4 linked regions of the Homo sapiens genome follow. The main gene of each other region encodes a partner of the protein of the gene in region 3 in a complex. Each region holds a gene or a part of one and is shown on either strand. Other genes may lie near its edges.

What was found.
Region 1: the proteins of YWHAZ (region 3) and MAPT are in contact, whole or in part, in a crystal structure (PDB 8QDV), measured with the Homo sapiens proteins. Residues at the interface, in NP_001129171.1 of Homo sapiens: Glu14, Leu43, Ser45, Val46, Lys49, Arg56, Arg60, Lys120, Arg127, Tyr128, Glu131, Gly169, Leu172, Asn173, Val176, Glu180, Ile217, Leu220, Asn224; in NP_058519.3 of Homo sapiens: Ser637, Cys639, Gly640, Ser641, Leu642, Asn644, Ile645, His646, His647.
Region 2: the proteins of YWHAZ (region 3) and CRTC1 are in contact, whole or in part, in a crystal structure (PDB 7D8P), measured with the Homo sapiens proteins. Residues at the interface, in NP_001129171.1 of Homo sapiens: Asn42, Val46, Lys49, Arg56, Arg60, Lys120, Arg127, Tyr128, Glu131, Gly169, Leu172, Asn173, Val176, Tyr179, Glu180, Leu216, Ile217, Leu220, Asn224, Leu227, Trp228; in NP_056136.2 of Homo sapiens: Arg147, Arg148, Thr149, Asn150, Ser151, Asp152, Ser153, Ala154, Leu155, His156.
Region 4: the proteins of YWHAZ (region 3) and SOS1 are in contact, whole or in part, in a crystal structure (PDB 6F08), measured with the Homo sapiens proteins. Residues at the interface, in NP_001129171.1 of Homo sapiens: Glu14, Asn38, Asn42, Ser45, Val46, Lys49, Arg56, Arg60, Phe117, Lys120, Arg127, Tyr128, Ile166, Gly169, Leu172, Asn173, Val176, Glu180, Asp213, Leu216, Ile217, Leu220, Asp223, Asn224, Leu227, Trp228; in NP_005624.2 of Homo sapiens: Arg1157, Arg1158, Pro1159, Glu1160, Ser1161, Ala1162, Pro1163, Ala1164, Glu1165, Ser1166.

What each region holds. Positions count from the first base shown.
Region 1 is NC_000017.11:45,890,447-45,897,646, forward strand, and holds the start of MAPT (microtubule-associated protein tau), read left to right. Parts: upstream 1-4,107; 5' UTR 4,108-4,240; intron 4,241-5,033; exon of another isoform or gene 5,034-5,067; intron 5,068-5,336; exon of another isoform or gene 5,337-7,200. UniProt on the Homo sapiens protein: Promotes microtubule assembly and stability, and might be involved in the establishment and maintenance of neuronal polarity.
Region 2 is NC_000019.10:18,770,581-18,777,872, forward strand, and holds part of CRTC1 (CREB-regulated transcription coactivator 1), read left to right. Parts: intron 1-861; coding exon 862-966; intron 967-4,319; coding exon 4,320-4,406; intron 4,407-5,060; coding exon 5,061-5,241; intron 5,242-6,590; coding exon 6,591-6,802; 3' UTR 6,803-7,292. UniProt on the Homo sapiens protein: Transcriptional coactivator for CREB1 which activates transcription through both consensus and variant cAMP response element (CRE) sites.
Region 3 is NC_000008.11:100,948,748-100,956,648, forward strand, and holds the start of YWHAZ (14-3-3 protein zeta/delta), read right to left. Parts: upstream 3,274-7,901; 5' UTR 3,182-3,273; exon of another isoform or gene 2,709-3,181; intron 2,566-2,708; exon of another isoform or gene 2,439-2,565; intron 1,825-2,438; exon of another isoform or gene 1,659-1,824; intron 154-1,658; 5' UTR 143-153; coding exon 1-142.
Region 4 is NC_000002.12:39,117,877-39,126,100, forward strand, and holds the start of SOS1 (son of sevenless homolog 1), read right to left. Parts: upstream 3,176-8,224; 5' UTR 2,547-3,175; coding exon 2,460-2,546; exon of another isoform or gene 2,215-2,459; intron 1-2,214.

The sequences.
Region 1 (7,200 bases), on a different chromosome or scaffold from region 3:
CTCAAGCAAGCAAACAACAAGTCCCTCAGGGGTGGTGTAGGCTGCAAATGGAAGGAGCTTGAGTCCCAAACCTTCCACGGAGAAGGCTGGCTACCAACCTGGATCACTCACCCAAGACTGCTCGAAGAGTTGGTTTGAACCATTGTGTTTTGGGGTCTATTTATTACAACAGTTTAGCTTGCTTTGTGAATAGATTTAGTGGCAGAGCCTCCAAATTCTATAGATACATTGATCTCAGTCCTAACCGCATCTGGAACACCATTAAATAAAGGAATTGCAAACCCAGAGAAGGTAATGAATTTGTCTAAGGTCATACAAGATGGCTAGGATCAGGACCCAACTCTCCAGTTTTCTTTCTTCTCTGCTATTCTGCCTTCTGTGATCCTACATAAGTGGGCATGATTGTATAACATATGCGGCCATGAGATTTCTCTTTCAGCAAGAGAAAGGGACAGGAAGAAAGAGAGGGAATGCATTTTCTTGGCCTGAATTAGTGTGAGCCATTAGTTACCTACATTGACTAAATTATCTGGAATGAACATTCAACTCTACATCACATATAGTTAAAATGACAGATCTGCTTAAGATTGTTTCTAGCATACGTTATTTCAATTTAGGCAAATGTGACCATTCAGTGTGAGGGGACCATACTGTCATTAGGTCCCTGTCAGTTCTCAATTATACTGTTATCTTAGAGGGGGAAAAATGTGAAATTTGAATGTAGACGAGTGTTGATTTGACTGCTACAGTTTATTTTACGTATAGAAATAAAATAATGTGTAGCAAAAGCATTATTACAAAGATGATAATGAAATAACTAGTATTTATAATAGTATAATAGTATAGTATTTATAATAGTATGATAGTTTAATGACTATTTGTCAGATGTTGTGTAAGAAACTTTATACACACACACACACACACCTCATTTAATTCCTGTATCAATCAGGATACAGGACGCTGTGGTAACAACTCCTCAAATCTCGGTGGCTTGCACAACAAATGCTTATTTCTTTTTTTTTTTTGACACCAAGTCTTGCTCTGTAACAGGCTGGAGTGCAATGGTGCAATCTCGGCTCACTGCAGCCTCTGCCTCCTGGGTTCAAGCGATTCTCCTGCCTCAGTCTCTCGAGTAGCTGGGAACACAGGCACGCGCCACCACATCTGGCTAATTTTTGTGATTTTAGTAGAGATGGGATTTCACCATGTTGCTCAGGCTGGCCTTGAACTCCTGACCTCAAGCGATCCACCCACCTCAGCCTCCCAAAGTGCTGGGATTACAGGCATGAGCCACTGCGCCCAGCCCCAAATGTTTATTTCTTGCTCATGTGACATGTACTTCCTCGAGTTTTTCCTTCCTGAGATCTAAGCTGAAGGAACAGCTCTCTGGAGCCACGCCATTCTGGTGGCGGAAAGGAAGAGTAAAAGTGGTAGAACCTTGCAATGCTCTTGAAGCGCCTATTTGGAATGTCTACATCATGTAAATGGTAATGGACAAGTATGTATAATCCCCACACCAAAAAAAGGGGACACTATTGGGGACAATAACCACATTTCAATGCTGCAAGACGGATATTGACTGCACCCCCTTCCCACTTTCAGAAAGAAGAAGAGTAATTTTGCTGAACTCCTTCTAGAGACTGGAAATGTCCCTTCCAGTTGGGGTGATTAGGGAAGGCTTTGGTAAAATTTGAGCTAGAGTTTGAAGGTTAGGTAGACTACTGGTGGGTGAAGAAAGAACAAGGACCTTTGTAGGCAAAGGAAAACCTCAGAATTACAGAGGTGGAAAAAGAGTTCTAGTCAAGCCACTTCAGCTGGCTACAGAGTAGGTGGGAAAGAAAATGGGAGGACAAGGGCTCAGATGATGGGGGGTTGGGGCATTGGGGGGACACTTGAAAGCTAAACTAAGGGGTTGAACTTAATTTAGGAGGCAGTTAGAAGCTTTTACATATTTTTGAGCAAGAGAGTGACATAATTAAAATGATCTGGGCCAGGTGTGGTGGCTCACACCTGTAATCCCAGCACTTTGGGAGGCTGAGGAGCTTGGGTCACCTGAGGTCAGGAGATCGAGACCAGCCTGGCCAACATGGTGAAATCCCGTCCTACTAAAAATACAAAAATTAGCCGGGAGTGGTGGCATATGCCTGTAATCCCAGTAGCTGGGAGGCTGAGACAGGAAAATCGCTTGAACCCGGGAAACAGGTTGCAGTGAGCCGAGATCGTGCCACTGCACTCCAGCCTGGGCAACAGAGCGAGACTCCATCTCAAAAAAACAAAACAAACACACACAAAAAACCAAAAATAAATAAATAAAATGATCACTTCTGAATACTGATCTAACTAGGGGTTGCAGGGTGGGCTGATATAGGGAGAAACTGGAGAGCAAGGAGATCACTAAGGTCCCTACATGTCCAGAACCAAGATAGAGGTCTTGAACTAGGATGGTGGCAGTTAGAACAACAACAACAAAAAGTCAATTCCAGGCTGAGTGCAGTGGCTCATGCCTGTAATCCCAACGCTTTGGGAGGCTGAGGTGGGAGTTAGAAAGCAGCCTGGGCAACACTGCAAGACCTCCTCTCTAAAAAAAAAAAAAAAAAAAAGTTAGCCAGGTGTGGTGGTGCCCACCTGTAGTCCCAGCAACTCAGAAGGCTGAGGTGGGAAGATTGCTTGAGCCCCAGGAGTTCAAGCTTGCCGTGAGCTACGATTGTGCCACTGCACTCCAGCCTGAGCAAGACCTTGTCTCCAAAAAAAGGTCAATTCCACTGACTTTTCTAAGGTGTACACCATCAAGGGGCAGCTCCATCTCCAGGCCATTGGCTCATGAGACATTCTGTAGTCAGAAGGCTAGGGCAGATTGCTTTGAGCAAGCCCCCATGGTGGTTCTCACTCCTACTTCTTTGGGTATATGCCCCTCTGTTTAAAAATAAAGTTAATATGCATTTAAAAAAAAAAAGGAGAAAAAGGTCAGTTCCAGAAACTGTGTGAATAAAGCATTTTACTTGCTTTTTCTATTAATCTATAACATATGTTGATTTTTTAAAAAGAATATAAGAGCTATGCAAATTGGAGCTTCAAGACAACTTCCCATCTCCCTAGGAGGAGATGGCTGCCCTAAACCCCCCTACATAGAAATCATCCCACTGCTTGGGCTTAAACTTGATGTTGGGGAAATGAAAAATCCAAGCTAAGGCCGAAGCCTGGGGCCTGGGCGACCAGCAGAATGAGGACCACTGGTCAGTTTCAGGCTGAGGTGCGTCTTCCAGGGGACAATCTCTAGCTGGCCCTTAAACATTCAGACTTCAAGCTCTATTTACAGCATAAAGGTGTTTCAAAAGACGTGATACAAATAACTGCAAATGCTCTGCGATGTGTTAAGCACTGTTTGAAATTCGTCTAATTTAAGATTTTTTTTTCTGACGTAACGGTTAGATTCACGTTTCTTTTTTTTTAAGTACAGTTCTACTGTATTGTAACTGAGTTAGCTTGCTTTAAGCCGATTTGTTAAGGAAAGGATTCACCTTGGTCAGTAACAAAAAAGGTGGGAAAAAAGCAAGGAGAAAGGAAGCAGCCTGGGGGAAAGAGACCTTAGCCAGGGGGGCGGTTTCGGGACTACGAAGGGTCGGGGCGGACGGACTCGAGGGCCGGCCACGTGGAAGGCCGCTCAGGACTTCTGTAGGAGAGGACACCGCCCCAGGCTGACTGAAAGTAAAGGGCAGCGGACCCAGCGGCGGAGCCACTGGCCTTGCCCCGACCCCGCATGGCCCGAAGGAGGACACCCACCCCCGCAACGACACAAAGACTCCAACTACAGGAGGTGGAGAAAGCGCGTGCGCCACGGAACGCGCGTGCGCGCTGCGGTCAGCGCCGCGGCCTGAGGCGTAGCGGGAGGGGGACCGCGAAAGGGCAGCGCCGAGAGGAACGAGCCGGGAGACGCCGGACGGCCGAGCGGCAGGGCGCTCGCGCGCGCCCACTAGTGGCCGGAGGAGAAGGCTCCCGCGGAGGCCGCGCTGCCCGCCCCCTCCCCTGGGGAGGCTCGCGTTCCCGCTGCTCGCGCCTGCGCCGCCCGCCGGCCTCAGGAACGCGCCCTCTTCGCCGGCGCGCGCCCTCGCAGTCACCGCCACCCACCAGCTCCGGCACCAACAGCAGCGCCGCTGCCACCGCCCACCTTCTGCCGCCGCCACCACAGCCACCTTCTCCTCCTCCGCTGTCCTCTCCCGTCCTCGCCTCTGTCGACTATCAGGTAAGCGCCGCGGCTCCGAAATCTGCCTCGCCGTCCGCCTCTGTGCACCCCTGCGCCGCCGCCCCTCGCCCTCCCTCTCCGCAGACTGGGGCTTCGTGCGCCGGGCATCGGTCGGGGCCACCGCAGGGCCCCTCCCTGCCTCCCCTGCTCGGGGGCTGGGGCCAGGGCGGCCTGGAAAGGGACCTGAGCAAGGGATGCACGCACGCGTGAGTGCGCGCGTGTGTGTGTGCTGGAGGGTCTTCACCACCAGATTCGCGCAGACCCCAGGTGGAGGCTGTGCCGGCAGGGTGGGGCGCGGCGGCGGTGACTTGGGGGAGGGGGCTGCCCTTCACTCTCGACTGCAGCCTTTTGCCGCAATGGGCGTGTGTGTGTGTGTGTGTGTGTGTGTGTGTGTGTGTGTGTGTGGAGGGGTCCGATAACGACCCCCGAAACCGAATCTGAAATCCGCTGTCCCTGCCGCTGTTCGCCATCAGCTCTAAGAAAGACGTGGATCGGGTTCTAGAAAAGATGACTCCCTGCACGCCCCTCCCTGCACCTCCCGAGCAGTGATTCCGACAGGGCCTTCACTGCCCCTGATTTTAGGCGGGGGCCGGCCCCCTCCCCTTTTCCTCCTTCAGAAACCCGTAGGGGACATTTGGGGGCTGGGAGAAATCGAGGAGATGGGGAGGGGTCCACGCGCTGTCACTTTAGTTGCCCTTCCCCCTGCGCACGCCTGGCACAGAGACGCGAGCAGCGCCGTGCCTGAGAACAGTGCGCGGATCCCACTGTGCACGCTCGCAAAGGCAGGGTTCACCTGGCCTGGCGATGTGGACGGACTCGGCGGCCGCTGGTCCCCGTTCGCGGGCACGCACAGCCGCAGCCACGCACGGATGGGCGCGGGGCTGCAGGTGCATCTCGGGGCGGATTTCTTTCTCAGCGCTCGGAGCGCAGGGCGCCCGGCGTGTGCGCTCCCTGCCGGAGGCGCGGGGCTGGCGCGCAGGGCTCGCCCCTCACTGCGGCAGTGGGTGTGGACCCTGGTGGGCGAGGAAGGGGGAGGATAGGCTGTGCCTCCTCCCACTCCCGCCCCCAGCCCCCCTTTTTTTCCCCCTCGGAACGCGAGGTGCCATCTTTTTTCGGCGTGTCACGTCTTTACGGTGCCATGCCAAACCGGGTGGCCGGGCTTCATAGGACAGGGCGGGGCCTGGCATTAAAGGGAGGGGGACAATCAGCGCTGAAATCTTGGCGTTTTGCTGCTGCGGGCGTGAGCACTGGGGGCGTTCGCCCAGCACCTTCTTCGGGGGCTCTTTGCTTTGTCTGTAGAGGTTACGTGATCTGCGCTCCCAGCCCTGGTTTCTGGCTTTTATTCTGAGGGTGTTCAGTCAACCTCCCCCCTACGCCCATGCGCCTCTCTTTCCTTTTTCGCTCCTCATTTCCGAGCCCATTGTTGGATCTCGAGGCTTGCTGGGTTCGATGAACTCGAGTCAACCCCCCGACCCCCGGCACGCATGGAACGGGCGTGACCGCGCGCAGCCTCGTCTCGGAGTCTGCCGGCGCCGGGAAGCTTCTGAAGGGATGGGATTCGAGTCTCCGTGCGCGCTGCGGGCGGCGGCAGAGGGATCTCGCCCCTCCCTACACCCCAAGTGTCCTGAGGGCCACGCCACACCAGGTTGCCCAGCGAGGGACGCTGGCTACCCATCCGGGGATGGGTGGGGAGCCCTGGCGGGGCCTCTCCGGCTTTACGCCCTGTTGCTTCGCCTGGCCGGAGAATGTGAGGAAGGGGCATAAGGTTACTGGTGCTTCGGCCACACCCATCTTTCTGAGCCCACTGGACTGGGCGCAGAGGGGGGATTGCCATGGAAACCACAGGTGTCCGGAGAGGGGATCTTGGGGCTGGCCTCACCCCTTCCCTGCGGAGATTGGGGACCCTGGGGTAGGGGGAGCCGCGCCCAGTCGGCCTCCTGGAGGACACGGGAGGAAGCCCCGAACCCCCGCGCCTGAGGCTGTTTCTGATTGGCCCCTGGAGGCCGCAGACACGCAGATAGGCGGCCCTGGGTGTATTTTTATTAATATTATGTCCGTACTGATTAATATTATTTATCTTAAATAAATTTCACCCGTGTCCAAGTTCACCGCGCCCCCAAAACCGAGTCTGGGGCGGCAGGGGGAACTCCTGGCCAACGAATCCATGCCTCGCCCTCCTGTGATGAACCTGGTACGCACGGTTTTCTGGTTAATTCTATCGCTGAAAACTGGTGCGGGGGGCGCACTTCTGAGACGGAAGAGCATCTAGGAGCTGAATCCTCCACGCGGGTCGCCCAGGTTGATCTGAATTTCTGGGGAATGGCTTGGCTGCCCGCCCGGGACCAGGCCGACCCTCCTTGACGGTGGCGTAGAGGGCTGGAGCCTGGGTACTGCGAGGCTCCTCGCATGGCTGGGCCCGCCGCGAGGGGTTGCAGAGCGGCTCAGGGATCGATTCAAGCATCGTCTCTCCTCCCTCGCCCCCAGACAGAGCTGGGCGCGGGGTTCCCCTTCCAGATGGAGCGAGGGTCTCGGGGTGGCCCCGGAAAAGGGGAGCCCGCGGCCACGGCTACGTATTGCCATCTCGCGAGCAGAGATGTCACCTCCTGCCTTTGGAGGAAAGGGAGCCCGGTGGGGATGAGCGCATTTAGCCCAATGCTGGGAACAAAGCGCACTCCGCGCTTCTGCGATTTCGCTCCATTTTGAAATGTGTTGGCGCTTTGGTGGGGCCGCTGCGGTGGGCAAGGCCGGGGGCGCTGTTAATGGAGGAACCTCAGGGGGACGGTCCTTCGTAGGAAACTCTATCCTGGCTCTGCGCGCGCTTTAAGGAAATGGCTTCCCTCCAGGACCTCGAGGGATGCAGCTTTTGCGCGGATGACGGTGGGGTGCTGAACCAGCCGGTGCGCCTCTGGAAATGTCTGGGCACGGATCCTGGGGCCATCGACGACTCCTCCCCATTCCCA
Region 2 (7,292 bases), on a different chromosome or scaffold from region 3:
GTTGTGGGTGTGCACAAGTGGGTGGGTGCGGGTGTATGTGGTGTGCACCTGCATGGGTGTGCATGCATGTGAATGTGTGTGCATGTGTGCATGCGTGGGTATGTACATTTGTGGATGTGTGGACATTTGTGGATATGTGGACATTTGTGTGTGGATATGTGTGCTTGTGTGGGTGTGTGCACACGGTGTGTACATTTTGGTGTGTGAATATATGTGTGTGTGGGTGTGTACATGCGTGGGTGTGTCCATGTGGGTGTGGGTGTGCATGTGGGTGTGGGTGTGCATGCGTGGGTGTGTACATTTGTGTGCATGTGTGCATTTGTGGGTATGTACGTTTGTGTGTGGATGTGTGCCTGTGTGTGTGCATTTGTGGGTGTGAGTATGCGTGTGTGTGCATGTGTGGGTGTGCATGCATGGGCATGTACATTCATGTGTGGATATGTGCACATGTGTGGGTGTGCATGTGTGGGTATGTATATTCTAGTGTGGATATGTGTACACGTGGGTATGTCTGTGTGGGTGTGCATGCATGAGAGTGCACACGTTGCTATATGGCTCTGAGCCTGCTGAGTCAGGGCCAACCCTCTGATCACCCTCCTGTAGCTCCAAGAAGGAGGGCAGTTATTCACCCTCCACGCCGTTCCTTCCTGGGTTCGGGGGCAGCTCCCCGGAGGCTCAGGTACCCACCTTTCCTGCAGGTGTCCAGGCTCCTCTGCCTACCAGTGGGGTGGCGACCATCACCAAGGTGTGAGGGGCGGGGGGACCTGCCTGGGGGCTGATCAGGCTGCTCCCGGGAAGCAGGGACTGGAGCCCGGGCTTGGGCAGCTGGGCTGCGGCGTGCTGATCTGTCTGTCATCGCAGGCGCCGGCTCTGCAGCAGTACCGCACTAGCGCCGGCTCCCCGGCCAACCAGTCTCCCACCTCGCCAGTCTCCAATCAAGGCTTCTCCCCAGGGAGCTCCCCGCAAGTAAGGGGCGCCGCCTCCCCCTTGGCCTGTGGGCTCCACGCTTGTCTTGTTCATGCCCCGTGTGTTCCCTGCCCACTGTCTGTCCTCATGCATCGCTCCTCATGCATGTCCTCATGCATCCCATCCCGTCCACGCCATCGGACCTGAGCTGTGCACCTACCAGGCTGCACCAGGGCAGGAACCCCACAGGGTCCTTCCCAGGAGCCGCCAGAGCCTGCCTCTGCTGAACACTAGGTGGGGGTGTGCGTTAGTGACATTAGCGATGGCTGTGGCCCTGCCTGGATGTCCTCATTGAGTGGCCCAGGGACAATGCCCTCCACACCCAGTGTGTCACCCAGAGCATGAGCTGGAGCTTTAGGGACCCCCCCGACTTGGGGGTGCAGCTGAGGTGGCTGGCCCGCCCGCAGGGAAGGCGCTGACTCTGCAGCCCTGCTTTCCCCTTCACCCCATAGGCAGCTGTGTTTCTCCAGAACCACTGGCCCAGGAGGCTTCTCTGAGCCGCTCTGCAGTGTCTCAGGGCCCTTGTCCCCATTCCACAGACGGGAGACTGAGGTCAGCCTCAAACCTCACCCATCAGCCCTGGGTTTTCCTGTTGCACCCAGCACCGTAGGACCCTGGCTTGCTCACGCCCCAGCCACTCCAAGGTTCAGGTTCCTCGGAATGCCCCTTCGTTCTGCCTGGCCAGTGGAAGCGGCCAGCCTGGCTCCCCACTCAGCCTCCTCCTGTTGTACTTTGACATCAGGTGTGGCCAGTAGACCCCACATTCCATCTAGAACATTTGTCCGGGAGAAGGGGTGCCCACAAGGCCAACATCCAGCCGCCAACTTTTTTTACCCTGGCAGCAGAGCCTCCCCAGAACCCCGCTATCCTGGGACCATCTCATCCCTGAAATTTCACCAAGCTGAGAAACCCCTAGCAGCCACTGCTGTGCCCGGGGCCCTGAAGCCATCCCTGTCCCCTGTAGAGGGGATGCTCTCGTCCTACTTCCCAGCTAGATAAAAGAGTCGCTCCTCCAGGGCTGAGGTCGGGCTCCCTTGTCCCAGGGCAAACCGTGAGCGCCACAGACAAGGACAGTGAAGCCCCTCTGCCCCCATCTCCAGCTCTCACACGTGTATAGGGACATCTGCCCCATCAGCCAAGGGCCGTCTGGGACCACTGCCTGTAGCCCCGTGTTCTGGAGGCAAGTTGGTGGGCAGCAGTGGTCTCGGGGAGGCATGGGGGTCAGCCTGGTGTCTGCGCATGCTTGGTCTGCCCGCACTGGCTCTCTGAGCTCTCGGGCTCTGGCAGCGTGTCTGGTCTCGTCGTGTGGTACTGTTGGGGATGGGGCTGGAGGGGCTGGAGAAGCGGCAGGTGAGGCCTGTCCCAGGTGGGCAGCCCAGGTGGGGCTGGTTCCTGAGTGAGGTCCCTCTTGCATGTGAGACAGGACGGGACAGGAATTAGGAGTCGAGCCAGTTTCTCTCAGGAGAGAGTCACTGGAATGGTTGGTGAATTTTTGGGCCCCAAGCCAAAGCGGGTTAGTCTGCTGGGCAGCGAGCAGGTGGCGGTGTTGTCAAGCCCATGTCTGTGTGTCTGGTGTCCGTCGTGCGCTGATGCAGGAGGCAGGCGGCTCATGGAGGTATAGGGACATCAGTACGGGGCTCTCAGGGGCAGATGGTTCTAGGTGGAGCCGAGACCTGCCTTCCCTCTGCACTGGGTCTCCGAGGACTCACCCATCGGTCCCACAGGCCCAGACCACCCCACACCTGCTGTGTCCTGCCTTGAGTAGCCACTGTGTGCACCCTAGCCAGGCCCTGGGCCACAGGCAGCTACCATTTGGTCCAGTTTGTGGCTCTCTCCCAACTTCAAGCTCACCTTTCTGGCAAGCCCTCATGGCAGGCTCACAGGGAAACCTCAGCCTGTGTTCCCCTGTGTATGCCAGGCCTTTTTGAGCCCAAGCCCTCAGGGACAGGATCAGGCGCTGTCCTGGAAGCCTGGTCCCACCCCACACCCCGAGCCCCAGGACAGACCCAGCTTCAGACCAGCTCTACGACAGCCAGGACATTACCTATTGCCTGCCTGCCTCCCTCGCCTCGGGCAAACCAAGCCGCAAGCTTGCGGTCCTTGTTTCCAAAACCTGAAGCCGTTGATTTTTAGGGCCAAGATAGCATTTTTGCCACACGTGCTGGCCTTCCCTTCCTTGGGTCACCTTTTTACCTCTTCTCTGGCGTTTGAGTGGGACGTCCAACCTCACAAGCCTCCTCGCCCCAGGGTGAGCGTGTCTGTCTCTGTTGTCTGCCCACTGACCACCAGGAGCAACTGGTGGGTTTGTGGCCGGCCCCTCTCTGGGATTGAGGCCAGAGACTCAGGCGTTGGGATCTTCCTGGAACAAAGGGGATCTCTCTAGAACAAAGCTCAGATGGGGAGCTCCAAGGGAGAGGGCCAGGGCTTTGGGTCTGTGGAGACATTCACCTGGACGCCTTATAGGGCACATGCCTTACGCTATAGCTCTGAGAATGGCTGTGGGGCAGTGGCTTCCTGGGGACACTAGCCAGAGCTCCCAGCCCCCTGGATGCTGCCAGGCCTCCAGCAGCCACAAGGTCACACTGCAGCTGGGGTTCCCGAGGCCTCGTCCACGGCCACCCCCTCCTCGCCTCCACACCCCAGCCAGACCTCATCCCACCATCTCTTGGGGAGGGGCTCCGAGTGTCTCCTTTCTAGCGTCTCCACCACCCATAAGGTCCCCTAGCCCCCTGCTCCTGTCAAGGGACAGCCCCTGTCACCCTGCCTCTGAGAGCCCTGCTGGCCTCAGATAGCAGGAGTAGGGCCCCGGGTCCTGCAGGCTGGCAGCCCTGGGCAGGGGCTCTCCCTGTGCCTGTCCTGTGCTCTCTCAGCTGGTGGCTGGCTCTGTGCGCCCATCCTGTCCATGTACGTGGCCTGCGTCGTGTCCTTTGTCTCCTGTCAGGAGTCACCAAGTGCACTTTCTGTCCTGAATGTAACGTCTGGGCACTTCCCGCCTTGGCCCTGGTGACAGGTTCTCCTCTGGGGCCTGTTGGGTGGGGGTTCCTCATCCCTGTGGCCCCCAACTTCCCTGTGATGGAGATAGAGGCTGCCTTACCCAGGCTTGAGGAGAGGAGATGGGGATGGGGCCTTGGGAAGGGGCTTTCGGGTTGCAGAGGCCTCCCAGGAGCAGGTGGCAGAAAAAAAGTCATCCAGGATTGGGGGGCACTTCTGGAACCCCAAAATAAGCATCATCATCAGCCTCCTGCCGTCTGGGAGGTTCCAGGGGCCTCTTGTCTTCCAGCCGGGCTTGGGAGGTGCCGACTTCCCACCTGGCCTCAGGCCGTGACCACAGCAGGCCTCTCTTCTGTCTGCAGCACACTTCCACCCTGGGCAGCGTGTTTGGGGACGCGTACTATGAGCAGCAGATGGCGGCCAGGCAGGCCAATGCTCTGTCCCACCAGGTGAGCGGGCGCCCAGGCTGCCAGCCGGCCGGTGCCCAGGACAGATGCTTGCTGGGACCCTCGCTGGGACCCGGGCCTTGCGAGTCAGAGCTGCACGTGCTCGGGGGGCCCGTGCCTGCCCCTCAGCTTTGCCCCTCGGCCCCCGCCCCGTCCCATCTGCGGGCTATGGAGGCTGAGTCCCCGGCAGGGGTGGCCTAGCGCTGCCTCCCCTGGCATCTTTGCCCACCTACAGAGCGGAGGCCGAGGGCAGAGGGTGAGGGGGGGCAGGCAGCAAACGCCGGGCCAGACAGGGATGGGACCGTGGCTGTGGACGCGGCGCCTCGGCATGGACCGTGCACGCGGGTTTGCCGGGAGGTCGTGCTGGCTTTGCGTGGAGGCCAGGATCGGGGGCATCCAGGGGGCTTGGTGGCAGCCTGGAGCTGCTCACTCATTTGCTCATCCATTCATCCATTCATCCAGCCAGTCTCTAGGGTGGCGGGGAGGCCCCAGGTGGCGGGTGGAGTGGGGTTCGTGCTTGGCAGCCTGGGTGCCGAGCATCCTGCAGGGACAGAGTCCCCAGCTGCGGGCAGGACAGCCACAGCAGCCAAGGGCTTGGGGTGGCCAGCTGGGCAGGCCCGCGGTGGCCCTCACAGCCTGGTGTGCCTCCCTTCCCAGCTGGAGCAGTTCAACATGATGGAGAACGCCATCAGCTCCAGCAGCCTGTACAGCCCGGGCTCCACACTCAACTACTCGCAGGCGGCCATGATGGGCCTCACGGGCAGCCACGGGAGCCTGCCGGACTCGCAGCAACTGGGATACGCCAGCCACAGTGGCATCCCCAACATCATCCTCACAGGTGAGGCCAGGCCGGGGGCGCGTGTGCGGCGCCCCAAGGGGCCTCAGCCCGTGCGGAGACAGCCAGAGACTGCTGTCCCGCAGCAGGAGGGTTGACAGGGCCGGGGTTGTGACCCAAGCTTGATGGGGGCCTGAGGAGGCCACACCCCCTCTCCCCTGAATTTGACTCACTCCTGGGCTTCGGGCCAGGCCAGGCCAGGGAGATGCCTCTGGACCAGACGTCCCGTGCATAGGATAGAGACGGTCACTCTCCCCTCTCGGCGGCCTCCTGTCTGGCCAAGCAGCCCGGGTAAAGGTGAAGCAGCCGGGTACACGGTGCCCACTGCCCAGGCCACTGACCTGTCAGCTGAATGTGCACCAGGGTCAGGGACGGCTGTGGGGTGGGCCCTGTCTGGTGAGCCCAGCCTGGGCAGCCAGCTAACAGGTCAGGGCCGTGATGCACCGTGACAACCACGCCCAAGCAGTCTGAGCACGGCGCCTGGGCTCCTGGGGACAAGCCAGCCCCGTCCTGCATGGCACATATCAGGAAGACCCGGCTCCATCTAGCACAGAACCCAGACCCTGTCTCCCTGCTGAAGAAGATGATTCCCTTATGAGTCAGGGCTGCTGGATTGAGGGTGATGCGCCCCCTGGCAGTCCTCACTGGCCTCTTCCAGGCTGGAAGTGTCCGTATTTAGTGCTCCCCCACTGTGGCCTGGGCTCTGAGTGCAGAATCCAGCACCTCCTTCCCACCCCTCGGGTGTAGGCAGCAGTTGACGAGAAATTCAAGGGTGGACGCGCCAGCCTCAGACTCAGGAGAAGAATCAGAATCTGACCCCCGCAATGGCCTCAAGAGCCCAGAAAGACAGGGCGTTTCAGCCCCATTTCTCAGACCTGGAACCTGAGTGTAGGTGGAAGCCTAGGTTTGAACCCGGGTCTTTGTGGGGGAACTGAGGATTCCCTCCAGCCCTAGCAGCAGCTGGGTCCCCACAGTCACTCCAGCCTGCTTCTCAGTGACTCGTGCCGAGCAGCCCTCATGGCTGAGGGAGCCGGGGAGGTCCCTGCCCTCGCCAGGTCATGCTGACGTGCATCAGTGACACAGCCCTTGGCCCGAGGCTTCTCCTTGGTGCTCCTGACATCTGGAGCTGACATCTAGGGCCAGACTGGTCTCTGGGGTCCAGGCACTGTAGGGTGCTGAGCAGCATCTCATGTGCTGGCCCCTCCCCCAGTCATGACAGCTGGAATGTCCCCAGACATTGCCAGCATACCCAGGGGACAGAGTCGCCCGGCGGGCATGCCTGGTCCGACACATGGATGCGAGCGATGGAGCCAGGGCTAAGCAGTGCCTTTTGTCCCCACCCCATCCCCCAGTGACAGGAGAGTCCCCCCCCAGCCTCTCTAAAGAACTGACCAGCTCTCTGGCCGGGGTCGGCGACGTCAGCTTCGACTCCGACAGCCAGTTTCCCCTGGACGAACTCAAGATCGACCCCCTGACCCTCGACGGACTGCACATGCTCAACGACCCCGACATGGTTCTGGCCGACCCAGCCACCGAGGACACCTTCCGGATGGACCGCCTGTGAGCGGGCACGCCGGCACCCTGCCGCTCAGCCGTCCCGACGGCGCCTCCCCAGCCCGGGGACGGCCGTGCTCCGTCCCTCGCCAACGGCCGAGCTTGTGATTCTGAGCTTGCAATGCCGCCAAGCGCCCCCCGCCAGCCCGCCCCCGGTTGTCCACCTCCCGCGAAGCCCAATCGCGAGGCCGCGAGCCGGGCCGTCCACCCACCCGCCCGCCCAGGGCTGGGCTGGGATCGGAGGCCGTGAGCCTCCCGCCCCTGCAGACCCTCCCTGCACTGGCTCCCTCGCCCCCAGCCCCGGGGCCTGAGCCGTCCCCTGTAAGATGCGGGAAGTGTCAGCTCCCGGCGTGGCGGGCAGGCTCAGGGGAGGGGCGCGCATGGTCCGCCAGGGCTGTGGGCCGTGGCGCATTTTCCGACTGTTTGTCCAGCTCTCACTGCCTTCCTTGGTTCCCGGTCCCCCAGCCCATCCGCCATCCCCAGCCCGTGGTCAGGTAGAG
Region 3 (7,901 bases):
AAGCAACTGAGAGAAGATTCCTCTCCTCATTGGATAATTCAGCTCCTTGCTCAGTTACAGACTTCATGCAGGCTGCCATGTCATCATATCGCTCAGCCTGCTCGGCCAGTTTGGCCTTCTGAACCAGCTCATTTTTATCCATGACTGGATGTTCTGCAGGGGGGAAAAAAGGAGTATTTAAAATTTTTCCCATCAAAATAAACAGACTCAAAATTATACCTGTGGTAAATGAGTTTTTTAAACCTGAAACCTAACTGCCTGTGAAAGACTGTTCACATGAGGAATTAAAATGCAGCCTCACAAAAGGATAGTCAAAAAAGGGAAAAAAATTTAGCATACTCAGCATCAGAGGTAAACTTACAGCCATTAACACATCAGTGTAGCAAAACTTAAAATTTGTTCAGAAGACCCAAATTTCACATGTCAAAATTACTTCCAAAAGCTGCCTCAAAAACTACCCCTAATCTTACCTGATCAAAATCTCAACTCATTTCCAATACCACTAAGTGATCCAAAATTAAGCAGCTTTTCTTCCTTTAGTAAAAGCATTGTTTACAGAGAACATCTGGATTTCTATCATATTTCCAGAATCATAATTCATATCAGTTTAATGTAACTCACGTCTTTTTACTTTCATAATACTCTTGTCAAGAGTGATTACATTTTAGCTTTAGTGTTACCCCTACCCCAAACCTACTAGATCTCTGCAACAACTGCCAGCCAATAATAGCATAACAATTTGGGGGGGAATGACCAACTGTTTGTTTTCAGATATTTTGAGTATAAATCCACCACAAAGGATCAATATCTGACCCTAATGTCTCAACTCTTTATCTTGTTATATGTCCACATGCTTTAAAAATATCCGCAAGTCATGACACTTCAACTCTTACTGTGAGTACTAGAATATATCACATTGGAAGTACTTAATTTATAAGTGTTTCCAATGTCATCGCTCCAGTTGAAATGCAGAAGTGCTGCATTTTGCTTCTAGCCATCATAATGTAATTGGATGTTACCACTCAAGCTGTCCTTTACCATGACTACCCATCTAATTCTCTTTCCCTCGCATTTTAGTTTCCTGGACCTTTTCGATTTACCTCAGCTACATTTTTCTGGAAAGATACCCTTTTGCAAGTTGCCGAACAGCACAAAGATACTAATCCACACAGTGACACCACAGAATAAATGACTTCAGAGGAAAATACACACCCTGAATGAAGTGCACTTTTAAGTTAGAAGGTGAACAGAAGAGTCCACCTTGGCAGCTGGCTCCCGAATATTAATCATCTTTTACCTTCCCAGGGAAATCCCACAATATTTTTTTAACCAAATGAGAGAACAGGTCGCCACATTTTAAACAAATAATTAACCACTTTGGATGCAAGGTACTGGCTCAATACGTAAACTATTTAACCTTTATGACGGCATTATTTTCGTCAGGTCTCTAAATTACTGATTTTTCCCTTAGGATCTCAGAAACGCTCTCTGGTTATTTCTGCTTCTAACAAAAAATGATTTAAGCCAGTACAAAGGATTCTCTCCCCAATCACTTCGGTACAAGAGGAAGTGGATAAGGTTTCTCACACAGTAACGAGTGCTCCAAGGCCTCGCCTCTACACTGCGGGCAGGACTCACCGCACCCATTTAACCCTTACCTGACTTGAGACGTCGGTTACTGTGAAACGAAAACGGGCAGACCCGGACTTTAAAGTGCAAATTCTCCGGTCCGCGTATCGCAACCACCCCCCTCCAGGCTCCGCCCAAGTCGGAGCCACGGCTCAAGTCCCCGACTCTCCTCCTTTGTCATGGCGGATCTGTGTCAGGGAGCCCAACCTACTGCAGAGTGTTAATTCCTCCCCCCGACCGGAGCCAGAGGGAGGAGCAGCCCGCGCCCCCGCCCAAGCCGTGGGGGGGGGGGAGAGATGGGGAGCGAAGCCGCCCGACCCCGGGGCAGAGACGCCACAGCAGCCCGCAGAAGCGGAACCACTACCAGCCCCGCCGCGGACACACCCCGCTCTCCCACCCAGCGCCTTCCCCGCCACCGATCAGCGCCGGTGACCGTGTACAGCGTCTCTAAGGGACCGACAGCTGCAGGTGGGGGAGGGGACGAGAGCCACACCCAGCCGAGCGGGCCACCAGCGGCTATGCTCAGGCTCACCCGCCCCCAAAGCAGGATATGCGTCCCCAAACCGAGCGCAGGGACCCTCCAGTTCTAGTCCATCAAGCACGGGAGCCGACTGCGGGCTCACCACCCTGTTCTCTACCCCGACCTGGACTTGCAGCCCCCGTCCACACCTCCCCCGCCCGTTCACAAGGAGCAAAAAAAGTCAGACCCATCCCCCACCCCCACCAGGAAAATTCAAGTCCTTCCTCCCACCGCGGAGCCCAGGAAATTCAGCTCTAGGTCCCAGGCGAGCCCCACCCCAAAACCTCACCCCGCAGTGGACTCCCCTCCCGCCGGCGCGCAGCCTCGCCCCGGTCTACCTGGCGGGCGCCGCCGCGCCAGGCCTGGGCTCCGGCCCGCTCTCGGCCAGGCCTTTCCCTCGCGCTTGGGTCCCCGAGGCCCCCGGCCCCTCCCCGCCGCGCCACCGCCTCCCGGGGTGGGGGAGGGCCGGGTCCCGCCGCCGCAGCGCCCAGCGCGGAGGCTGCGCGAGGGGGAGGGAAAGGAGGGGGCGGCCGAGGGAGAGGGGAGGGGGCGGCCTCACCTGCGCCACTGCGATGCCCGCCGCCGCCGCCGCCGAGTCATTATCTCGGGCGGAAGCGAGAAGGGCGGCGAGGGAGGGGGTGGAAGCCCGCAGAGACAAGGGTGGGGATGGATCGCGGCCGGCGGCGCCCCGGCCATGCCTCGTCCACCTTCGGGAGCCGGCGACAGGGAGATCCCCAGGGATCTCGCGTGTGGGCGCCCTACCCACCCCCGGGGGCAGGACGGGGGAGCGAGCACCGATCGGCGCCGGGGCGTCGATGCGGAAGCAAGGAGCCGGAGGCGGCCGCTAGCCGCCCTCCCGAGCCCAGCGGAAGAGGAGCCGCCGCCCGTGTCCGCTGAGGAGACTCCGCCTCAGCCCGGCGCCGCCACCGCGGGGCGAGTGGGGATGAGGGGACGGAGCGAGGACGGCTCCCACGCGTTCGGAAGGCTGGCCTGGGACAGGAAGCGAGGCGCGGCGGCGGCCGGGTTCCTCACCTGTGTCCGGAGTGGGTGGTGGCGGCGGACGGACGGGCTCAGCAGTCTCTGGGCGGCGGCGGCGGCAGCAGCGGCGAGGCTGAGACTCTGTCCCTGGATCTCGCTGCTCACAGGCTACAGCCGCTCCGCAGACACGGGGTTTCCTCCAATCACCAGCCCCGGCAGCAGGGGCACCACACGCACGATGACGTCAAACGCTGCTATGGCAACCGTTGATTGGTGCCCACAGCGATCGGGGCCCCGCGTAACCGCCGCTCCCCGGCGCTCGTCCTGCCCGCCCGCGCTGGAGGGCGAGCGGAGGCGCGCGCGTCCTCGCCCGCAGCCGCCACTCCTCCCACCCCGCTCGGCTTCCAGCTCCTCTACGCTTGTCCCGAGTGCACCTAGGGCAGGAGGCTGCTTTTTTCCTTTTCCTCCCCAACGCAAATCCCCCACTCCTCGCCTTCCCTTTGGGTCCCCAACGCCCTCTCTCTCCCTCTCCCCTGCAGCCTCTGCCGGCCCACTCTTCCTCTCAGCCGGCGGGAAGGCGTTCTCTCCCTACCCCCACCTTAGCTTTCGCTCAGCCCGTCTGCGCTTGCCCCAGTCACTCCCTCTGGAAGGGGCTCCCGTTCAGCAACATCCGGGACCTTTCACATCCCCCCACCCCTCCCCGAGGCCCGGCCCGCCCCACCCTCCGTGCTTCGCGGTAGTAACTGCCCCAGGGCCGTCCCCGGGCAGGATGACAAGGGTGGCTCGGCGGCTCCGGCATTGTGATCAGGACTTGCGGGGCGGGGGCCCCGGGGCGGGGGCAGGGCGCGGTCGCACGGCAAGGGAGGGTTGTGTGTGGTGCGCTGCCCCCCGCCCCGCCCGCCGCTCCCCTTCCCCGGCTGGGCCGACCGGGGCGCGCGGCCCCTCCCGGCCTCCCTCCCGCCGCCGCGGCTTTACCTGCTGGCTCGGGGGAAGCGGTCCTAGACCTTTTATGGCTCGGAAACGGGAGTGAGGCGTCCAGCCCCTGAGTGTGGCTGAGTGATGGGGAGGCGTTCCAATCGAGAGCGCGGGATCTGCGCTCGGTGACTGCGCGAGGGGACAATGGGTGGGCGCCGAGGTGGGGGCGAGGTGGGCCGGGCCGGGCGGAGCCGGCAGGAGGTGAGGCCTGGAAGGAGGCGCGGCCGCTTTAGGGAAGCCAGAGTTCCGAGGGGAAAGGACAGCCTTCTCGGGCGGAGGGCTGGAGCTGGTCCTGGCAGCCTTGACCCGGAGACAGGCAGTCAGGCGTGACCGCACGGACCCGTTTCTCGTAGGCTAGGTTTTCCTACCCAAATAAAGCTTTCACGTGAAGACCTCATACTGCACATGACGATCATTACCTTTTTATCTCCTAGAAGCAAGGTTTGAGGGACGTCGTAGTCCCCAGGGTTCCAGCTGGCGGTGGGAGTGGGCCACAGGCCGGGTGATGAGCCGGGACGGGAGCCCGGAAGAAGGGGAAGGAGAAAGGCGGAAATTGCAGGTGCCTGAACCGGTAGGGCCTCCGCCCAGTTGACTTCAGGAAGTTCAGAGAGAAACATTCACAGTGTGAATGATCTCTGCCCCTTCCCTCTTTAAATGTGTTCGGGCTAAGAAAAGATTAGTGCTTGGATGACCTGCAAAACCACTTGCAACAGCCATGGAGAGTGTACGGTTAGCAATGAGAGAGCTTGGAACTCTTCATTTTACTCTTGTGTAAACTCCCCATTGATTCTTCCAACGTATCTTTATTGAGCTGACCAGAGCCTCCGTTTAGCCTCATGTTCTCTACAGAATTTAGTTTCTCAGTAGTAGACACGAAATGATTGAGTCCTCGCTCTTCCAGTACATTGTCTTTCCTACATAATACAGTGGACCACAAGGCTGCTCTACAAATTACTTTTTGCCTGACATGACAGCTGGCATTTAGATAGTACAGACCAGAAAGAGGGTTTCCAGTGACCAGTTATATTTTAGTGGGTTTTTTTGTTGTTGCTTTTCACAAGTTGCCAAATCACAGACTCATGGTAGGTTAAATGGATAAACAAATTGGAGTTTTATTTCTGAGATGTTAGGGTCAACTAGCTTTGACTCCCAAGTAAATTCTTTTAGGGCGTGACTCACTTAAAATGAGTAATATTTCAAAAGCTATTTTTTTTACAGTTTTTTCGTAGGCACCAGAAATTTGACAGAGGATACTAAGTTAAACGTTTTTTTAAAATGGAAATTGATGTTTCTTTAATGTCTCAAATATATGTCTATGTAGAGTATATGCCTTTTGTTTTAGAGGAAGTTAAGGGGTTTTTCTGTATAAATATGGATTTACTTCAGGAAACAGCTAAGTTAGGCTTTTGCCTCATGCTTTAATAGCAAGGCATTTTTTAGTGCAACAATAGGCACTGTTAGGTTTTACATACTCAAGTCAATGTGTCTGCACAATAAAGATATAATGAAGCTGCAAGAAAGGAACGGGATGTTATGAAAGCCCTGAGGAAAAGATCTTTTAAGAAATAAGGAATAACCTGTGGCATACAGAGCAGAATAAATAGAACCTATGAACCCTGGGAACTTTGCTGGAGACTTTCACTAATACCCTGACCTGTATTTTCTTCAATGCGCAACTCTTACCTCACTCAAGTTGGTTAACCTCTATGTGCTTTGATAGCCACGGCAATAAAATACTGGCAACAAAAACACTTAACTCATCAGGTGATGCTGAGGATTAAACGAATATACACATACATATATTTCTTAGAGTAACCTAGCTATTATTCATTTGTAAATGGATATATCTGATTGATATCTCTAGTGTTCAAAAGATTGTAAAGATAAAATGAAACTATTTTCTTTTTGATTTTTAGGAAACTTCAGTAGCAGAAAGAAACCATATTTTTAAAGTATCTTTTAGAAATAGAAATGCCTATTTGTGTTTCTTAGTGCTGAGACATGAGTGATGAGGGTGAATATTGATTCATTCCTCTATAGGGGACTGCAATGATCTCTTCAAAGCTATACATCAATATATAATGCTATACATTAAAATGAGAAAAAGCCCAGGCACAGTGGTTCACTCTCATTATCTCAGCACTTTGGGAGGCAGGCAGATAGCTTGAGTCCACGGGTTCAAGACCAGCCTGGGCAACATGGCAAGACCCCTTCTCTACAAAAAATACAAAAAGTAGCTGGACATGGTGGCATGTGCCTGCGGTCCCAGCTACTGGGGAGGCTGAGGTGGGAGGATCATTTGAGCCCGGAAGGTAGAGGCTGCAGTTAGCTGTGATTGTGTCACTACACTACAGCCTGGGCAACAAAGCGAGACCCTGTCTCAAAAATGAAACACTAAAATGGGAAAGAGTTTAAGTGAATTAGCACAAGTCCATCCCTCCAATTGGGAAAACATCTCCAAGGATGGACTCTGTTGATGATGTGGCAGTTATATGATATTTTAAGTGTAATCACAATTCTGTCAGGCTATAATTTCACTTCACTGTGTTTTATTTGGAGAAATCCAACATATTGCAGAAGGTTTTGCAGCAGAACAGGGACTAAATCTTGGTTTGTCATTCAGAACTGTGTGACCTTAGGTTTCTGAATTGGACATACCAATTTCTAATCCCATTATAATGGTTGTTGCAATGATTTCATGAGAAAGTAAGGAAAGGGCTACCTACATGTAGTACACCAGATCATGTATATCTGTTGTTGAAATAATCTGCAGTTAGTAGCAGAGACAAGCTAGCTATTCACCAAACCCATTTTTCTCCTCTTGCTGCCCCAGTTGGACTCCATTGCCCATTCTCCTTTGCAATTACATGTGGCCATGTTACTGAGTGCTGGCTAATGGGGTATGACCGCAGGCATGTGCTCCACTTGCAGGCCTGGCCCATAAAAATCTCCCTGTTTGAATGTTCATTCCATTCCTGTTTTTCCGGCTGAATGGAGAGGATTCCCAGGGCTTAGAGGCAGTGAGGTCATAAAATGAAGACAGCCTGGGTCCCTGGAAGCCTATGAAAGCCTGCCCCAATCATTTTGGAGTTTACTGAGGGATAACTTCTATTTTAGGCCGCCGCAATTGAGAGTTTATCTGTTAAAACAGCTAGCACTATAATGTCCGTGAAAGTAATTGGCAAATCTAAAAGATGGGAAAGATTTTTTTTTAAATGAAAGAAAAGGGGAGGAAAAATGAGAGTAAGGAAAGGGAAACTGATCTTTTGATAAAAGGCAGTTGAAAGAAATACAGGCCAAGTGCAGTGGCTCACGCTTGTAATCCCAGGTCTGTGGGAGGGTGAGGTGGATGGATCACTTGAGCCCAGGAGTTGGAGATCAGCCTGGGCAACATGGTGAAATCCCGTCAATACAAAAAATACACAAAATTAGCTGGGTGTATGTGCCTGTAAATCCAGCTACTTGGGGGGCTGAGGCAGGAGGATCGATCACTTGAGCCTCGGAGGTTGAGGCTGTGGTGAGCTGTGATTGCACCACTGCACTCCAGCCTGGGTGACAGACTGACACCATCTCAAAAAGAAAAAATAAAGAAAAACATAAGTATTCTCAACTATTCTGTTGACTTCTAGAATTGTGTCCAGCATGGGTGGGTTCTTGGTCTCACTGACTTAAAAGAATGAAGCCACGGACTCTCTCGGTGAGTGTTACAGTTCTTAAAGGCGGCACATTTGGAGTTGTTCATTCTGATGTTCGGAGTTTCCTCCTTTTGGTGGGTTCCTGGCCTCGCTAGCTTCAGGAG
Region 4 (8,224 bases), on a different chromosome or scaffold from region 3:
ATGTAACAATAAAGCCATTAATCGAGAAGAAAAACTGAAATGACAGGTGGAGGAGAGAAGTGATAGTTTTAGTTTGTATATCCCCTCACCTATTTATTCAAATTGAGTGCCTACCAGATGTCAAGCACTATAAGTATGGGGAATAAAATGTGGGTAAGATATCATCCCTGTTCTCAAGGAGCATCCAATCTAGTTATAGGCAAGTAAATAGGAACTTAAAATTCACAGAGCTAGGACAGGGTGCAAAAAGAAAACAAAGGAGTAATATCCAACTCAGCCCTGATGATTTGACAGTTCAGGTTGAGTGAGTCTAGAAGGATGAGTAGTGTTGGACCAGGCAAAGAAGGATGAAGGGACTAGCATATCCAAAGAGCCTCAGGTAAGAGTAAGAGAACACAAGTCGGATGTATCTACGAATAATTCAATAACAAATCAAAGGAAGAAATCAAGATATGGAGATATCCACATGAAATGTCCAGCAGGCAAGTAAAAACGTAGGTTTTGAGCTACCAACAGCATATCCAGATATGAAACATACTGTATTTTCAATCTTGTTTAGAATCATTGTTAGTGGCTATTTAAATAAGAATTGGAAGAACCTTACATATCAGCTAGATTATGTACACTTCCACCTCCTCCTATCACTTCTACTGCAAAAGTATCTCTAACTTAAAGTCAAAAGCTGTTTTATGTAAATATGCAAAAAGGACAAGTGGGGGCTGTGGTAAGGTGGAGATACATGACCTGTCTAAAGAAGGGAGCCATTTACTCAACTCCAGCAGTTTAGTGCCTCGCTTGAATACAGGCCCTAAATGACAAGACCTTCCTATTCTTCAAGAAAAGCCGAAAATTCAGGTTTTATGTAATATCTCCCATTTTCAAATATTAGCAACTAATTACATTTAAAAATAAAACAACACTATGCCAGCCAAACAAAATGCTTTTGTGGACAGATTTCAGCAAGGGCCACCAGTGTGGCAGAATTAAACAACGTCTGTCAACTCCTACAATATTCTTTCCACTGCTTCAAAGGATCCTCAGCTGATACCTTGGTGATTCCCCTGGGAAAGGAGCTGCTTTTGCCTCTAAGCAAAATGGCCCCTATTTGGCAATGCTTTATGAGTTCCTTTACACGTTTTTAAACAATTTCCGTGTCTCCCCTTACTCTATCCGGACACCAGCTTCTAGCATCACAGAGACCTCCTACACCCCTTCCATTACAAGCTAAGAAGTCAAACTTGCAAGTAAAGCAAAAGTAAGGAGTGAGAGCCTGAAGGGATTTCTAAGGAGTAAAGTATGTAAGATATATGGCATCTTTTCTTCTGTTTTTTAAAAAAAATTACATAGATGTTTGTGACTAGTCAGACACTTGAAGGGGAAAATGTCCGTAATTTAAGCCAGAAATATATGAGCAAATTCTCCTGAAAAACCAAATAGTTTCCACTGTAAGACAGCAAGAGGGACCGGAGGAGAACAGGGCAAAAGGGAAAGTAAAAGTTACTGGCCTTTGAGAAATATCAGACACCTTTTAATGTTTAGCATAAAAGGTAAAACATAATCTCCATTCTTAGTAGAAGCAGTTAGCATGAAACATTCTTTGAGCAGCAAGAAACTGGGATTTAGAAACACTATTAGAAGAGTAAAGCAATCTTTACAGAAAAGGTAAATGAAGAAAAGAAAACAAAAATAGTCTGGTTGTCACACTGCTGCTTTAGAAGCTTTAAAAACGTAAGAACACTTCCTAATTATACTAAAACATTTAAAAGCACAGATCGGGGGTATGTAACTTCAGGTAACAATGTAGCAAACTTAAACATACAAAGGCTAAAAATTCTTAACAAGCCAAATGACAGCACCAAGAATCTCGAACGCTGCAAAAACAAAACAAAACCCCCCTGAAATTGGTAGCATGTGCACCAGCCCCTGTTAATCGGAGGAGCGGGGGAAACCAGGAGAATGAGGAGTGAATACTGACGGCGAGCAGAGCAGGCCACGTTCCTACTGGCAGGCGAGCTCGCAATTCCTTTGAGCAAGCCTTACGGCCAGGGCATTCTCAAGCCACTAAAACCAGCGTACTGGACACCTAAAACGGTAGGCTGACAGCAGCTCCGGGCTAAGACCAAGAAGACGGAAAAGTGGCCTGCTTTGACCTCCGCTGAAAACTGAGGCTCCTCCAACTGTTGTTGTCCTGGAATCAAAGGGCAAAGCATTCACCTCTCAGGGGTTGGATTATCCGGATAAACTCCCCCCGGCTCCCTGCGGCATTCCCACACACCCGGTGGATGTCAACACCGAGAGCCAGCCGTATGAGGGGGGCCTCTCCGTGTGCGCCGTCCTTTTGGAGACGCGGCGAGACCGGGAAGAAAGACGGCCCTGCGCGCGCCCCGCCTCCCCAGCCCTTCCCCAGCGCCCGCGCTGGGGGGCTGCGGCCGGGAAGCGGGGTCCCGCGTGCTCCTCACCTTTTTCAGCGCAGGCACCAGTAGTCCCCGCCACTTGGGCGCGTTCTCTTCGCTGAAAAACTCGTAGGGCAGCTGCTGCGCCTGCATGGTGCCCCCGGGGCGCCTCTGGGCGGGGAGAGGGGCGGCGGCGGCCGGGCCAGGGAGCCGCGAGAGGGCGAGCTCGCAGCGCGGAACAGGGCCGCGGCCCCACCGGACGGCCCGGCCCCCTCCGGGCGCCGCGCAGCCGGGCTAGCCCTGGCGAGGGGGCTGGGGGGCGAGGCCCGCGCCTGGCCACCCACCCGACACAGGTACCAGCCGTGGAGAACGGACGCGGCCCGGAGGCGGCGGCATCCCGCACCACCGCCCCGGGGCCAGGCCCCCCGCCCCTCCCCGGCCCGCCGGCGCCGCCCCGGGCTGCCCTCTGCCGCGGCCGCCGCCCGCCCGCCGGGGCTGCACTCCCGGGCCCGGTCTGGCCCCGCGGCGGAGCTGGCGGCTGGGGGAGGACGTGTGGAGGGACGCTCCGGCCGCGGCGCCCGCTCCGCGTAGTTGGGACTCCGAAACGCAAGAGCCCCGGGCGGGGCGGAGCTGGGGCGGAGGTCTCGCGGGGAAGGGGAAGGACCGGAGGTCGTTGTTGGGGAATCTGGCTGCCCTGAGGTGCCGCCGCGGCCGCCGCCGCCACCGCCGCCGCCGGTGTAGCGCTGGAGCTTCCTACTAGCGAACTGAACCTGCTCGCTACTGAGCATGCGCTGCCGTGCTGGGCTGGTTCGCTCCGGGTTTTCCGGCTCCCGGTGAAGGAGGAGGAAAGCTCGAGAGAGAAAGAGAGAGAGAGACAGGGAGGGCGCCCGGCCGGGCTGTGGCTGCGCTCCTGGGGGCTGCAGGGGAGGGGCGAAGGGGCCCGAGAAGTCGCACCCTGGCAAAGTGGGGCCTGCAAGGGTGGGTGATGACTAGGGTAAAGAGGCTCCCCATTGTGTGGCCTGGCCGTGAGGGCTCCCACCCTTCTCGGAGTCCCTGGGCCCTTCGTTTCGGAAAGGGGTGTGTGTACTTTGTTCCTGAACACGAAGATAAGGACTGCCCAGAGCACGCAATGTATAGTAAACAGACTGGACAAAAGACAGGTGCTCTGTCACGAAACCTACTGCTCAGTATCTGCTGAGTAGTAGAAGTGATTGCGGTGTTTCTAAGTGGTCTTTCCACAAAATAATAAAATGTGTACGTGTAGTATTGATTTTGTGTGAATGTTTTAGATTCCCTCTGTTCATCTTTTAAACCCACTCCAGAAATGAACTCCAGTAAGCACTTTCCTCCAGTGGATATCGAGACCTCTTTTACAGCTCCTAGAGCACTGCACTTATGCCCCTCTCAGGGCGTTCAGTCTATTGTGTTTTGTTATCTTTTGCGGTTCTTTCGACTAGATAATAAACTGGAAGGCAGATCTTTTTCACCAGGGCCTCTACACAGTGTAGAACAGGCACTCAGTCAATGTTAGTGGAATGCTAAAGGAGCAGTATTTATAAACTGTCCCTCCAGGCCACTGTTTGTTTATAATAGGGGCACTTTGTGGCAGACACCTTATGATTTATCATTAATTATCATTTTTTTGAGTATCATCTCATTTAATCCCCATAGCAACCCTATTATTTTCATTTCACCGATAAGAAGGCAGTTTAGAGGAACTAGCCTGGGTTAAAGCTGACATTGTGTCCTGCTATTCCTGAGAACAGTAACCAGGATCACATAAACGAGAAAGGTTCAGTGGTTCTTAATCTTTACAGGACCTCTTTGAAAATCTGGAAAAACAACTCTTAGGTTATTTCCTTTAAAAATACACAGGCCGGCCAGGCGAGGTGGCTCATGCCTGTAATCCCAGCACTTTAGGAGGCCGAGGCGGATGGATCACCTGAGGTCAGGAGTTCCAGACTAGCCTGGCCAACACTGTGAAAACCTGTCTCCATAAGAAATACAAAAATTAGCCGAGCATGGTGGTGGGCGCCTGTAATCCCAGCTACTTGGGAGGCTGAGGCAGGAGAATCGCTTGAACCCAGGAGGCAGAGGTTGCAGTGAGCCGGGATCATGCCACTGCACTCCAGCCTGGGCAACAAAACCAAAACTCCGTTTCAATTCAAAAAAAAATATACACACACACACACACACACACACACATACACACAGACCGGCCGGGCGCAGTGGCTCACGCCTGTAATCCCAGCACTTTGGGAGGCCGAGGTGGGCGGACCATTTGAGTTCAGGAGTTTGAGACCAGGCTGGCGAGACCCATCTTTATTGTTTTATTGAAAAAATAAAAATATACATACTTGGTTTACATTTGAAAAACTCCCCACTTTCAAAGTGTGTGGAATGAAAGCTGGAATTATAGGCGCCTGCCACCACACCCAGGTAATTTTTGTATTTTTATTAGAGATGGGGTTTCACTGTATTGGCCAGGCTGGTCTCGAACTCCTGACCTCGTCATCCACCCGCCTCGGCCTCCCAAAATGCTGTGATTACAAGCCTGAGCCACCGCGCCCGGTCAGCCCTCTTCAAATATTTAAAGGGTTGTGATATGGGGGAAGAGATTGGTTTGTATGGTTCCAAATGAACCAACATCAAGCCTGTACCCCAAACTATTGCTTGGCTTCCCATTGCTCTTAGAATACATTTCAAACTTCTTACCGTACCCCACAAAGGCGTGCATCTGGCTCCTGCTCACATTCTCAATGTTTTCTCACCATTCACAACCTCGCCTCACCACACTCCAGTCACAGTAGCCTTCTGTCTATTCCTAGAAAACAACAACCTGCCTAAAGAACATTGTTCTTCTCTCAGCCTAGAACCCCTAACTGTTCCCTTGGCTGGTTATAAACATCACCACCTCCAAGAGGCCTTCTCCGATCACTCCAAGTAATTCTCACCTGTGTATTTCTACCTTATGTTCTTTTTATTTCCTGCTAGCACTAAATCAAATCAGTCCTCTATTTTTGGTTGTTGGTTTCCCTCCTGCCCCCAAATAAAATGTAAACTCCTAGAGAGAGAGAAACAATCTTTTTTTTTTTTTTTTCTTTTTCTGAGACAGAGTCTCATTTTGTTGCCCAGGCTAGAATGCAGGCGGAATCTTGGCTCACTACAACCTCCACTTCCCAGGTTCAAGTGATTTTCCTGCCTCAGCTTCCCGAGTAGCTGGGACTACAGGCGCACGCCACCAAGCCCGGCCAATTTTTGTATTTTTAGTAGAGGTGGGGTTTCGCTAGGTTGGCCAGGCTGGTCTCGAACTCCTGACCTCAAGCAATCCACCCACCTCCGCCTCCCAAAGTGCTGGGACTACAGGCGTGAGCCACCGCGCCCGGCCGAGATCAACAATCTTGTGCGTTTCGTTCTTCATTGGTTTTAATCGTATCCCCGGGGCCTACAATGCCTGCACACAGTAGGTAGCAATAAATATTGTCGAAGGAATAAAATGTGCATGCAGGAAAGTTCCAGGACTACATAATCAACGTTGTTTCCAGAAAACGGGCGATTTTCGGGGTGTGCAGGTAAAAAGCGTACATTCACTCACTCGGGCTAAGAGGTTGGGCATGTTGACCTCTAAGATCCCCTTCAACTCCGAATCTCTGATTTGACTGCAGAGGAAAACAAGCCCTAGAAACATGGGTTACAGCCTGGGCTAGGCTTGCTTAGCGGCCAGGGCAGGTTTTCACTAGCATGGCCGTTTGGGCCGTAGACAGGGCGGGTAACTGGAGAGAAACTGCAGTGAAGAGACTCAGTGCTTCGCAGCGGGGAGACCTACAGGGAGTGCCAGGGTCAGCCCCGCTAAGGTCAAGGAGCACTCCATCACCCCTGTACTGCTTGCCTGTATCTCTTGGGACAAAACAAAACACCTATGTCCATTCAGCAAGAGAAGACAACCGTGCGGACTCAGAAACGTGCAGACGGGTAGGCACGTGTAGACGTAAAAGTGTCGCCCACCAATCCCCCGCGCCAGCCCCTCAGCTTTTACCGCCGACGGGTGCGCCCTGGCGCAGGCGCAGAGGCTTCTTTTCGCTTCCCTCCTCAGCTCTAAGGAGCCTCACGCCACGGCGGACGTGACGCACGAGGCGCGTCCGGGCGGAATAGGCGAAGACCGAGAGGGGCGCGTCCAGGCGGGCTAGCCGAGTTCCGAGCGCGGCGCATCGGAGTAGGGCGGCGAGGACGGGGGCGGGGGTGGGCGTTTGGCCCTTCAGTGTGCCCCCTGCAGGTGCAAGTGCAACGCTCCGCGCCTTTGCCTGCCCTGCTGGCCAGGACGCGGCCACCTGGTTCTCTGCCTTGCTGCAGCCACAGTGATCCTTCTGACGCGAACTTCGGACCCAGCTACTTACTTTTCTGTTCAAGAACTCACACTGGCGTCCCAGGATAAATTCCAAAGTCCTTAACCTGGTATCCATGGCCTTGCACAATCGGACCGCTACTTATCTTTCTAGCTGTATCTCTCACTCAAAATGAACTGCTCTTGCCTCCTACAAACACATCACTTCTGTCTCTGTCTCCTGCTATTCAGAATGCCTGTCGCCTTTTTTCTCTAATGCCGCCCACCACAGCCCCACCCCAGCTCCCAGATACACGCTCGCGCTGGAACTCTTATCCACCCTGCGCGCCCTCAGCTCAAATGCTACCTTCTCTCTAAAGTTTTTTTTTTGTTTTCGGCTCTGATTCCTTCAGAGCCGAACAGGTAGAAGGAACAGCAGTTTCAGCCATCAGCAGTTAAGGTACTCTCTCCTCCAGAACATATTCACCCTCTGTCTTTCCCTCACCCTCTGTCTTTCCAATGCCTCCTTTCAATTCCTCTCCTCCAAAAAATGTATCTCCAGGAAACACACCAGAGAAAATAGTGACTGAGAAGAACACTAGATGCCCACTCTTTACTCACCTTTAGCTAATACTTTGAGTCCCCCGCCCTCTTCCTCCCTCTCTGTTTCCATCCCTGCCTTTGCAAAGATGGTACAGTTAGAAGAGATTATCAGAGGTTCTCCAAGACATATGGGACTATTCCTCGCACTTCTTTCTCGGGATTTCTGCAGGGAGCTTATAGGATATGCCCAAGTTTATCTTCTAAGAGAGAAGAGAAGACTTTTTGCAAAAGTCTCTTTCCAGTTGATTCAAGTTGTAATAGCTCCTCAAATTGATCACATCCAAATGCAATGTGACTTTAACGAAATTCCCAACAGGGATTGTCATGGAATTTGACAAACTCATTCTTAAAGGTATATGAAAGAGCAAAAGGCTAATTCTCCTGTAAAAGAAGAAGGTAGGGGAACTTGATTTACCAGATGTGAAAACTGATTACGTAGCTAAAGTAATTAAAACAATGGATATTAGCACAAGAACCTACAAACCAATTGATCAGTAGACAGCCAAATATATAGAAACCTGATACCGTAAGCATTGCAGATAAATAGGTAAAGGCTATACTGTTCAATAAATGAAATAATGTGCAATAGATAAATGCACATAGAAAAAATATACTTGTAACTCCCACCCTACGCAAAACAATCCCATTGGATTGAAGAAAGTGCAAAAAGCAAAATTATAAAACTCTGAGAAGGCTGGGCGCCAGTGGCTCACGCCTGTAATCCCAGCACTTTGGGAGGCCGAGGCCTGTAATCCCAGCACTTTGGGAGGCCGAGGCATGAGGGCAAGAGATCGAGACCATCCTGGCCCACATGGTGAAACCCCGTCTCTACCAAAAATACAAAAAAATTAGCCGGGCGTGGTGGCGCATGCGCCTGTAATCTCAGCTACTCGGCAGGCTGAGGCAG